Linked DNA regions of Homo sapiens. The protein of the gene in region 3 interacts with the protein of the main gene of each other region in a pairwise test. Each region holds a gene or a part of one and is shown on either strand. Other genes may lie near its edges.

Evidence for each region. The genes of interacting proteins can lie anywhere in the genome.
Region 1: the proteins of MAPKBP1 (region 3) and GLRX3 interact in binary tests that used the Homo sapiens proteins (3 or more experiments, as listed by UniProt).
Region 2: the proteins of MAPKBP1 (region 3) and FXR1 interact in a two-hybrid assay, tested with the Homo sapiens proteins (one large-scale study listed by BioGRID and IntAct).

Annotation. Positions count from the first base shown.
Region 1 is NC_000010.11:130,160,391-130,163,890, forward strand, and holds part of GLRX3 (glutaredoxin-3), read left to right. Parts: intron 1-405; coding exon 406-607; intron 608-3,500. UniProt on the Homo sapiens protein: Together with BOLA2, acts as a cytosolic iron-sulfur (Fe-S) cluster assembly factor that facilitates [2Fe-2S] cluster insertion into a subset of cytosolic proteins.
Region 2 is NC_000003.12:180,943,670-180,947,169, forward strand, and holds part of FXR1 (RNA-binding protein FXR1), read left to right. Parts: intron 1-3,500. UniProt on the Homo sapiens protein: mRNA-binding protein that acts as a regulator of mRNAs translation and/or stability, and which is required for various processes, such as neurogenesis, muscle development and spermatogenesis.
Region 3 is NC_000015.10:41,815,984-41,819,483, forward strand, and holds part of MAPKBP1 (mitogen-activated protein kinase-binding protein 1), read left to right. Parts: intron 1-575; coding exon 576-667; intron 668-926; coding exon 927-1,052; intron 1,053-1,404; coding exon 1,405-1,475; intron 1,476-1,630; coding exon 1,631-1,752; intron 1,753-2,025; coding exon 2,026-2,101; intron 2,102-2,210; coding exon 2,211-2,322; intron 2,323-2,535; coding exon 2,536-2,599; intron 2,600-2,839; coding exon 2,840-2,974; intron 2,975-3,262; coding exon 3,263-3,396; intron 3,397-3,500. UniProt on the Homo sapiens protein: Negative regulator of NOD2 function. It down-regulates NOD2-induced processes such as activation of NF-kappa-B signaling, IL8 secretion and antibacterial response. Involved in JNK signaling pathway.

The DNA.
Region 1 (3,500 bases), on a different chromosome or scaffold from region 3:
CCTGGACATAATGGAATCTCTGGCTGGTTCTGGTTTGATGAATGACTTTTAGGAAGCAGGTGCACACCTGTGCTTCCAGGCACCCATGGGTGTCATCGTAGTTCCCCAAATACCTCATTTATACTTAGTAATAGATTCATTCCAGCCAATGTGGGGGCAGTCTTTTTTGTATTATGTTAGACTGACCTGATTTGACTTTGAGATGTTGCAGTGTTTTCTCAGTGTGTTTCTGAGAAAAGAAAAAAATTATGTATTTCTAAAATTGAGATGCAGTGCAGGCAATTGGCAATGAGGGTTTCTTTTTTTACATCTCCGGTAATACTGTTGTCCCCTTTAAAAATCTGCTATAACAATGTCATTATTATGGAATGCTGCATGTATTCTAAATAACTTTTTAAACTTTAGAATTCTCAGAAAATCGACCGATTAGATGGTGCACATGCCCCAGAGTTGACCAAAAAAGTTCAGCGACATGCATCTAGTGGCTCCTTCCTACCCAGCGCTAATGAACATCTTAAAGAAGATCTCAACCTTCGCTTGAAGAAATTGACTCATGCTGCCCCCTGCATGCTGTTTATGAAAGGAACTCCTCAAGAACCACGCTGTGGTAAGAAGCTGCCTTTAACATAATATAAACAAAATGGGTGCTTTCCCAGAATGGGGTATGGTTGAGATGGGCATCCTGTTTCCAAGGATGCTATACCATACATCTTATACTTGTGTTCACATACTTTTAGAAAATCAAAAAGGTTATAATTCCCAATGACACTATATAAGAATTAGTTTGCATTATGGACTCAGCATGTTGGAACCAAAAGGGGTCTCAGAACTCATCTAATTCAGATTTTTGTTTTATACTGAAGTCCTCAGACTCAAAGATAGAGGTGACTTGCCCAAGGTCACCTGGTAAGCAGAGTTAGGATTAGGTTCCAACTACCATATTGCTGTCTCTTTTGCCTGTTTATCTACTTTTGCTGTTAACAGTTATTTTTTCTTTCTTGGCAGCCTCCTGTTTTTCACCTAGTTCAGATTCAGCAATTAAAAAATTTGCGGAATTTTTCAGTGTTTTTGTGTCCAGCCTGTGTGCTTTTGCCTCCCCTGTGTCATCACTGTCTAATGATTCTCTTCCTGCATTGCTGTCATTTCCAGTTTATAGCTGCTGGTAATGGAAAGATTCCGAATTCTTGGCTTGTAGTCACTCTTATTTTCTGTACACATGGATGCTTATAATTTTGTCCTTAAGTAAGTTTTAGAGTTATTTGACCCCTCTGGTAGTGGGTTTATGTTATTTTCTTTTTACTGTGCCTAGTACAACATTAGTATGCTGCATAATTGAGCATTTAATGCCATTTGATGATGCTGTTGAGACTCTAAGAGTATTTGTATCAACTACACAGGAGGGACTTTATTAAGATAGGGGCAGTAACATTGAGTATGCTCTTGATATGATTACAGCATGTCCAGAGTGACTTTATAAAGATAGCCAAGCTTCTAGTGTGAATTTGATTCTAAATTCTTCCCTGTAGGGTTATTAAATTACATATTAGCTTATGATAATGTCTAGTTTTAAAAATAAAGTTTCATGATGAATTCTTATTTTTTCGAGATGGAATTTCGCTCTTGTTGCCCAGGTTGGAGTGCAATGGCACGATCTCAGTGCGACGGAACCTCTGTCTACTAGGGGTCAAGCGATTCTCCTGTCTCAGCCTCCCGAGTAGCTGGGATTACAGGTGTCCACCACCATGCCCGGCTAATTTTTTTGTATTTTTAGTAGAGATAGGGTTTGTCCATGTTGGTCAGGCTGGTGTCAAACTCCTGACCTCAGGTGATCCGCCTGCCTTGGCCTCCCAAAGTGCTGCTGGGATTATAGGCGTGAGCCACCATGAATTCTGTCTTAAAAGTATCTCTTAGTTCTGCCTAAAAAATTTCCCTGCCAGTATTTATGTGTCAGATAATGCCTGCTATTTGTGTATTGCAAAGCTAACTTAGTCTGTACTAAACTAAAGGTAGCAACAGATAGTCTCTGTTGCGTTTGTTATTTTGTTTTTAACGGGGGTTGCAAATGGTTCACATTCACCTTCTTCCATGAAACATGAAAATTATTTCTTGTACTTTGTGCGGTGGCCACTAAATGGGAACTTACCACTTCAGTTGAATGGATTGTATTCAGCACCTTCATTCAGATCTCAGGTACAGTAGAACTGGCTGTGAAATGTGGGTGAAGCACACCTACAGTGAAATCTCTACAGTATTCTCTCCTTTGGGGTTGAACAGCAGCAGTCTCAGTCTTTTCTGAATGATAAACCTAATGAAAAGGCAGGTGGCAACACTGAAGCTTGGGGAAGGAGTGCTCAGAGGAGAAGGATGTCCTGGGAAGTGTGCTGCACTGGGTGTCATGCCAGGCGAGCCTCAGGCCCACCCCTGCGGCCTTAGCAACTTTGGGGACAAGTCAGGTACCCTCCTTGTGCCTTTAATTCCTTCTAGTGCTGTTGGGAACAAGATTGGCTGTTGGAGCCAATCTTGGAGGGCCTTTTCAGTGTAGATATTGTATGATTATTCAAGTAAATTAGAGAGAAACTTAGACATTTTAATTTTTCTGCTTACCTTTTACTTTATTAAACTGAATTTAAAATATACTGCTAGCATTTTTATATTTATATTAAACTTATTTAAATTATGTTTATTATAATGGAGTGAGATTTGGAAGACTGTACAAATAACAGAATAAAAAAGAAGCTTTGAAATATTTCAGGGCTGGGCGTGGTGGCTCATGCCTGTAATCCCAGCACATTGGGAGGCTGAGGTGGGCGGATCGCTTGAGATCAGGAGTTCGAGACCAGCCTGGCCAACATGGCGAAACCCCGTCTCTACTAAAAATACAAAAATTAGCTGGGCATGGTGGAGTCCTGTAATTCCAGCCACTTGGGAGGCTGAGGCAGGAGAATTGCTTGAACCTGGGAGGCAGAGGTTGCAGTGAGCCGAGATCGAGCCACTGCACTCCAGTATGGGTGACAGAGTGAAACTCTGTCTCAAAACAAAACAAAACACATTTCAGAGCCATCTGAAAACGTAGTATTATAGTTATTTAATTAATAAAAGACAATAAATATTTTGAGATACATATGGTTGAATGGTTACAGTTTCTTCTTTTAAAGTACTTCTATATAATTTTTATAACTACATTTTCAGTGGGTTTTTCTGTTTCCTGATATTTTCTGTTTCATGTCTTTCTGTCACATATAGTAAATAGATCATTTAAGAATGTTGCTGTTCTTTAATAAAATACTTAGGATTAATTGGAAAATATTTTTAAACTGTTTTCTTATGGGAACATAAGTCACCTCGACCCTCTGCTGTTCCTTTCTGAGCCTGGTTAGTGGAGCATTGTTTTTGCTCTTCTTCTGGCATTTTAGAGAAGGGCGTAGGCAAAGCTCCCTTTATAAAAGCACTGGCCATCTCATCTTGTGAACACGCACGTGGCTGCTCTTTCCTTATTTTGC
Region 2 (3,500 bases), on a different chromosome or scaffold from region 3:
AAGTTTAAAATGGAGTTCAGCATTTCATCGTTCAGTGAGAAAAGCCTCCAGGCAGTTGAGATGGTTTATTTAGAAAGCCAGATTCATGAATGATTATGCTTTGGTGAAAATAGAATAAGGGGGTTAGGTAGTTTTAAGACATAACATTTTCAGCAAATGAGGCTTGATTTACCCACATTAACAAGAGATATTCGAACTGCCTCTCTGAGATAGTTACTCGAATGGGCACCTTCTTTTGGTTGTTAGGATATTCTTTTTTTTTTTGAGATGCAGTTTCGCTCTTGTTGCCTAGGCTGGAGGGCAATGGCGCGATCTCAGCTCACCGCAGCCTCCGCCTCCCAGGTTCAAGCAATTCTCCTACCTCAGCCTCCCGAGTAGCTGGGATTACAGGCATGCACCACCACGCCTGGCTAATTTTGTATTTTTAGTAGAGACAGGGTTTCTCCATGTTGAGGCTGGTCTCGAACTCCTGACCTCAGGTGATCCACCCACCTCGGCCTCCCAAAGTGCTGGGATTACAGGCGTGAGCCACCGCGCCCGGCCTAGAATATTCTTTTTGTAACCCTCAGTATACTTGGGAAAACAGTCATCACTGATCGTTTACCAAATAATTTTGTAGCAGAAAGAATGAAAGGGTAGTAAGGTCGTTATTGGACCTTTTTTTTTTTTGAGACAGGGTCTCGCTCTGTCACCCAGTTTAGAGTATAGTGGCATGATCATGGCTCACTGCAGCCTTGACCTCCCAGTCTCAAGTGATCCTCCTTCCTCAGCCTCCCAAGTAGCTGGGACTAGAGGCATGCACCAACCACACCTGGCTAATTAAAAAAAAATTTTTTTTATAGAGACGAAATCTTCCTGTGTTGTCCAGGTTGGTCTCAAACTCCTGGGCTCAAGCAGTCCTCCTGCCTCAGCCTCCAAAAGTGCTGGGATTACAGGCATGAGCCACTGTGCCCCCCATTATTAGACTTTTTTAAAGGCCATTATTGACTCCATGCTGGAGTATAGTGAAGCAAACACAACTCACTGCAGCCTTGACTTCCTGGGCTCAAGAGATCCTTCCACCCTACCCCAGGCCCCCAAGTAGCTGAGATTACAGGCACATGCCACCATGCCTGGCTAACTTTTGTATTTTGCATAGTGATGGTGTTTCACCATGTTGTCCAGGCTGGTCTCGAACTCTGGAGCCAAAGTGATCTGCCCACCTCAGCCTCCCAGAGTACTCGGATTACGGGCGTGAGCCCCACCACGCATGGCCTTATTAGACATTTTAGTGAGGGTTTAAACATAGCAAATCTAACTTTTTCATATTTTCCAGGTTTTGATGATATATGTATCTACAATGAATGCAGTTCTCTAAATGTAACTAACTGCTCACTGTTATACATGAACCTAGAACATACCAATCTTATAAATATTGATAGCAGATTTAAAATATATCTCTAATAAATTCTAGCTTATTCTGGTTATTCTTACAGTTGGATCATCAGAATGCAGTCCTTGAATACTTTGGAACTTTTAATGACATCTCATTCTATTGAAGAAGGGATAGCCATCTCTGTGCTGTAATTTTAGCACATTTAGTCAGTTGGATTGACTAATCTATTGAATATTTTTGCATTTCATTATCTTTCTTTTTCGAGTTACCTTTGTATACACATCTGCTTTTGACATTTCCACTTACGAAGTACATTTTGGCACACAAACATTTCTTAAAATTTTATCTTCAATTTTTATTTTACCTTTTTTTTCCCCCTGGACAGGGTCTCGTTCTGTCACCCAGGGTTGAGTGTAGTGGTACAATCTTGGCTCACTGCAGTCTCAACTTCCCAGGCTCCAGCAATCCTTCCACCCTAGCCTTCCATGTAGGTGGCACCACAGGTGCACGCTACGACACCTGGCTAATTTCTTTTGTATTTTTGATAGAGATGGGGTTTCATCATGTTGTCCAGGGTGGTCTTGAACTCCTGAGCTCTCAAGCAGTCGACCTGCTTTGGCTCCCCAAAGTTTTGGGATTATAGGTGTAAGCCACCGTGCCTGACCACAAACATCTTAAAAGATGGAAGAATACTGTCATATACCCTTTTAGCAAACCAGGATGATCTGGGTTCTTGTTGGAGGATTTTGCATGATGGAGTCTCAGTTGAGTCATTAACTGGATGAGAATACACATCATCTTTCCCTCTTCTCCTTAGAAATACATTGTTTGAGAACAATGTTTGAGAAATACATCGTTTGAGAAATACATCGTTTGAGAAATACATTGAGAACATTCATCTAAGATGTCACCATCTCAGACTTCATAGTCTGAGGTTTTGCTTTGTAAGATAATTTCACATTTATCAGTACTCTTTGCATCTGTTGTCTGATATCTCTAATAATTAGAAAGGCCTTCCTCTGTAAATTTTTCTTCTCTTCGCAATTATGAGTGAAAAAAATTCATAATTATCAACTGGTCAACGGTAGCTAAAAGCAGACTACAAGGATGGTGTCTTTGGTCTTTTTGAACTGTTTTGAAAGAGATGTGATACCTCAGGCTATGCAGTAAGGAAACTGTATGAACATTAACAGTTTATTTCACTGTTGTATCCTCTAGGTGATGCCATCATTCCTCTGTTCCATTTTAGTCTTTATTTAAAGCATAGCTGAGAATAACTGATGAATGTTGATGAAATTGTAAAGTGTTTCAAGATATAGGAAAAATAAGATCACTAGATTCTACCTTACATTTATAAAAGGGCCCAGTGGATACATATAATAATTACAGAATAAGGGTGAGTTCTGTTCTAGTCTTAGAGAAGTAAACTTTCTTGTTTTTTGGAATATGTCGTAAGGAAGAATATAAGTCATGAGATATTGATCCCTTTGAATAGTTAGATCTGTTTATAAAAGAAATGGAAAAGCTAAAATTGAGTTTAACGGACCCTGATTGGTATATTGGACTTCCTGCTTTTTCTCATAGCTTTTTTCTAATCATGGTATACGATAAAGTTCATTAGTAGGTTTTGGTTTATTCATTTCCAGTTCCAGTATTCCTACCACTTCCAAGATTACTCTCAAATCATCCTGATAGAAGCTTCAGGCTTTCTAAAAGTCTTTGTTTTTAGTTGTTTGTGTTTATCTCCCAGATGGCTGTTAACAGCCACTGATAGGTTTCCCTGATGATCTCTGCAAGGACAGTCAATCTTGGTTTTTATTGGTTTTTAGTTTCTTCTCAGCCCCCCTTTTCTACCTTTCTCTATACTGAAAATATAATACGTTAAAGAAGCTCTGCTGTGTCATAAGAAATAACTCTAATCCCAAGTGAAAGCTTCTGTGACCTATTACGTTAATAAAACTGATATTTATAGATATAAAGAATATGACTTGTTTTTTTGTGGATAGTTTTTATTTTGTTTTTTTTGAGATGGAGTTTTGCTCTAGGTGCCTAGGCTGGAGTGCAATGGTGTGATCTCTGCTCACTGCATCCTCCACCCTCTGGACATGATTCTCCTGCCTCAGCC
Region 3 (3,500 bases):
ATCCTCATATCAACATCATTAAGCCCATGATAGGATGTACTAAGAAGGATGTGACAATGTTTCTGTGGTATTCTTACCAAAAATGCATAAACTCAATATAGGCGTGAGAAAACATCCGACAAACTCACATTGAGGTACATACCACAGAGTAACTGATCAATACTCTTCAAAAACGTCAAGATCATGAAAAGTAAGGAAAGACCAGAGAACTGTTACAGACCACAGAAGTCTAAGGAGAAGTAACTAAATGCAATTTGGATTCTGGATAGGATCTAGAGTCAAGAAAAAGGACATAGTAGGAAAACTGGTGAAATTTGAATAAGGTCTCTAATTAATAGTATTATACCAACATAAATTTCCTAGTTTTGATAATTGCACTATCGTTATGTAAGATGTTCACATTAGGGAAAGCTGGGTAAGGGAAATATAGACGCTCTCTGTTCTTTCAGCAACTTTTCTCTAAGCCTAAAAGTTCAAAAAAAGGAAAAAGGAGGAGAAAATGTAGCAGAGGAGGGGGCGTGAGTCCTTCCTGCGGCCTGGCCATGGCCTCTTCCCACCTCTCCTCATCTTTGCAGGGTGCACGAACTTCAGTCCCTGAGTGAGATGCTGAAGGTGGAGGCCCATGACTCTGAGATTCTGTGCCTGGAGTATTCTAAGCCAGACACAGGTTAGGAGAATGCCCGGAATGGCACAGGGCTCCTCCAGTCCTGCCGGTGCCACTTATATCTGTCCCGGCTCTTGGACGTGGGGTCGGTAATCTTTGGATCATTGGTGTCTTTGCTGGTTTAGAGGAAGACAGCTCTGTCCTTGCTCCATGGTTCACATGGCTTGGGGATATGGGGCTCAGTTCCCTTGGGGCTCTTTGCCAGGCCCAGATAAGGGCTGTTCAGGGCACTCATGGGCTGATGGAGTTCTTTCATCCCCAGGTCTGAAACTGCTAGCATCGGCGAGCCGGGACCGGCTGATCCATGTGCTGGATGCCGGGCGGGAGTACAGCCTACAGCAGACGCTGGACGAACACTCATCCTCCATCACTGCTGTTAAGTTTGCAGGTGCGGGCAGGGTGAATGAGACACATCCTGCCACTCTCACCCCTGCTGCCATCTGCCTCCCACCTCCATGAGAAGGGTCTGCCCATTGTGGGGGAGTGTTGGACAGCAGCTGGGAGGCCTGGAGCTGGTTGGGAAGATAGGTGGAACAGAGACTCTCAGTGCTGGGACTTGAGCCAACCAGGTTGGACTGAGGATAAGGAGACAGGAAAACCTGGGTTTCCAGGTTTAATTTAGTTGGTTTTCCCTGGCATGTAGAGTAGCTTGATGGGGGATCTCATGGAGGGAAGGTGGGAGGCAGGCTGCTCCCATGTGGTGAGAACAGTGGGAACAGCTGGGCTTCCCTCCTTCATAGCCAGTGATGGGCAAGTCCGCATGATCAGCTGTGGAGCAGACAAGAGCATCTACTTCCGCACTGCGCAGAAGGTGAGGGCGCTGGGCTTTCCTGAGAGGGGCGGGACAGGGCGGGGTCTGCCATTCCCTGCCTAAGGTTACAAGAGGTGAAGGGAGGCGCAAGTAGGGCTCTTGGGGCCTGGTGAGGCATTTGGGTGTGGGCCTGCCCACATGCTCCACCCCTGCAGTCTGGAGATGGAGTGCAGTTCACACGGACACACCACGTGGTGCGGAAGACGACCCTCTATGACATGGATGTGGAGCCCAGCTGGAAGTACACGGCTATCGGCTGCCAGGACCGAAATATTCGGTGGGCGTCCCCTCCTCAGACTCTGCCCACATTCCTTCATCTCCCTACGGGGTCAGCTCTGTGCAGCTAAGTTCCCACATCTGTCGTTCTGTACAGGACTTTGTACCCCCTTGAGCCTACAGTACTTTGCTTCACCCAAGAGGTGGTAGCCTGTTTGCTGCTGGGGGTAGCTCCCAGAGAGTGTAGACTGGGAGTGAAAGCTGGCATTTCCATCCCCCAGGCGTGTTCCACCTTCACCGCCTCCTCATGAGAAAGAGACTATGTTTCTTACAGGATATTTAACATCAGCAGTGGAAAGCAGAAGAAGCTGTTTAAAGGGTCACAGGGTGAGGACGGCACACTCATTAAGGTAAGGACCCAGAGGGGGTACTGGACAGGGGCTCGGGGACAGAGTGGTGCTGGGTGGGAGGGACTGGTACTTCCCATGTCCTCCAGCTGCACACCCTGCTACTCCTCAGGTGCAGACAGACCCCTCAGGGATCTACATTGCCACCAGCTGTTCTGACAAGAATCTCTCCATTTTTGACTTCTCCTCAGGCGAGTGCGTGGCCACCATGTTTGGCCACTCAGGTGAGTGTAGCCTGAATCCCCGAGTAGAAGCTGATACCTGCGTAAACCTGAGTGAGTTCCACCCCTGGAACTTCACTCTTCTATTAGTTTCTTGGGACCCGCAGAGCTACCTATCCCTACCCTGCAGCCAACCCCCGTGTCCACTGTTGGGATGGAGAGGACTTGGTTGGGAATTTAAGGTGGCTTATAGACCGTATTCTTTGTTCTTCACAGAGATTGTCACTGGCATGAAATTTAGTAATGATTGTAAACATCTCATCTCTGTGTCTGGGGACAGGTGAGCAGAAGCCAGCTTCCCTGAGAGGCAGATTCTTACTCTGCCACAGCACCCTGCCCTCCCCTCTCTCCATTTCAGTGATGTCTCTGGGAAGTGGGGTTAACAGGGATAGCTTTTGGCTGTGCTTGACCTGAAGTGGAGGGTGGCTCTGGTCTCCTTGCCATCCATGGATAAGGGGAACGAATGGCGCTAGCCATTCTACCTGCCCCTCCTTCAGCCAACTGTGTGGCTTTACCCCAGCTGCATATTTGTGTGGCGCCTGAGCTCTGAGATGACCATCAGCATGAGGCAGCGTCTGGCCGAGTTGCGCCAGCGTCAGCGGGGCGGCAAGCAGCAAGGACCATCCTCTCCCCAAAGGGCTTCTGGACCCAACCGGTGAGAACAGAATGTGGGCAAGTGATGGGTGGGTGTGCAGATGGCTTGCTGGGACCTCACTGCACTTCCTCCATGCTTTGGGCCTGCCATTCAGCAACTCTGTCTCCCAAGACCTTACCTCTCACACAAGGATCCATGATGTCAGCCTCTTCCCCCTGTTGAGTCTCCTCTCCCCCTATTGAGTCTCATCTTCCCCTCATTGAGTCTCCTCTTCCTTCTTCCCCCACTGAGCCTCCTCTCCCCCTATTGAGTCTCCTCTCCCCATGCCCTTCCTTGTCTCGGACTCAGGCACCAGGCCCCATCAATGCTGTCTCCTGGACCGGCTCTCTCATCAGACAGTGACAAGGAGGGAGAAGATGAGGGGACTGAAGAAGAACTTCCAGCACTGCCCGTCCTTGCCAAGAGTACCAAGAAGGCACTGGGTCTGTGGCAGTTGGGTGTGGGGGCAGACAGGCCCTAGTTGGTATAATGGCTAGATATGGTTTTTCTGAGACTGTGGGGTGAGAGCAGTGTGAGCTGAGGAAAC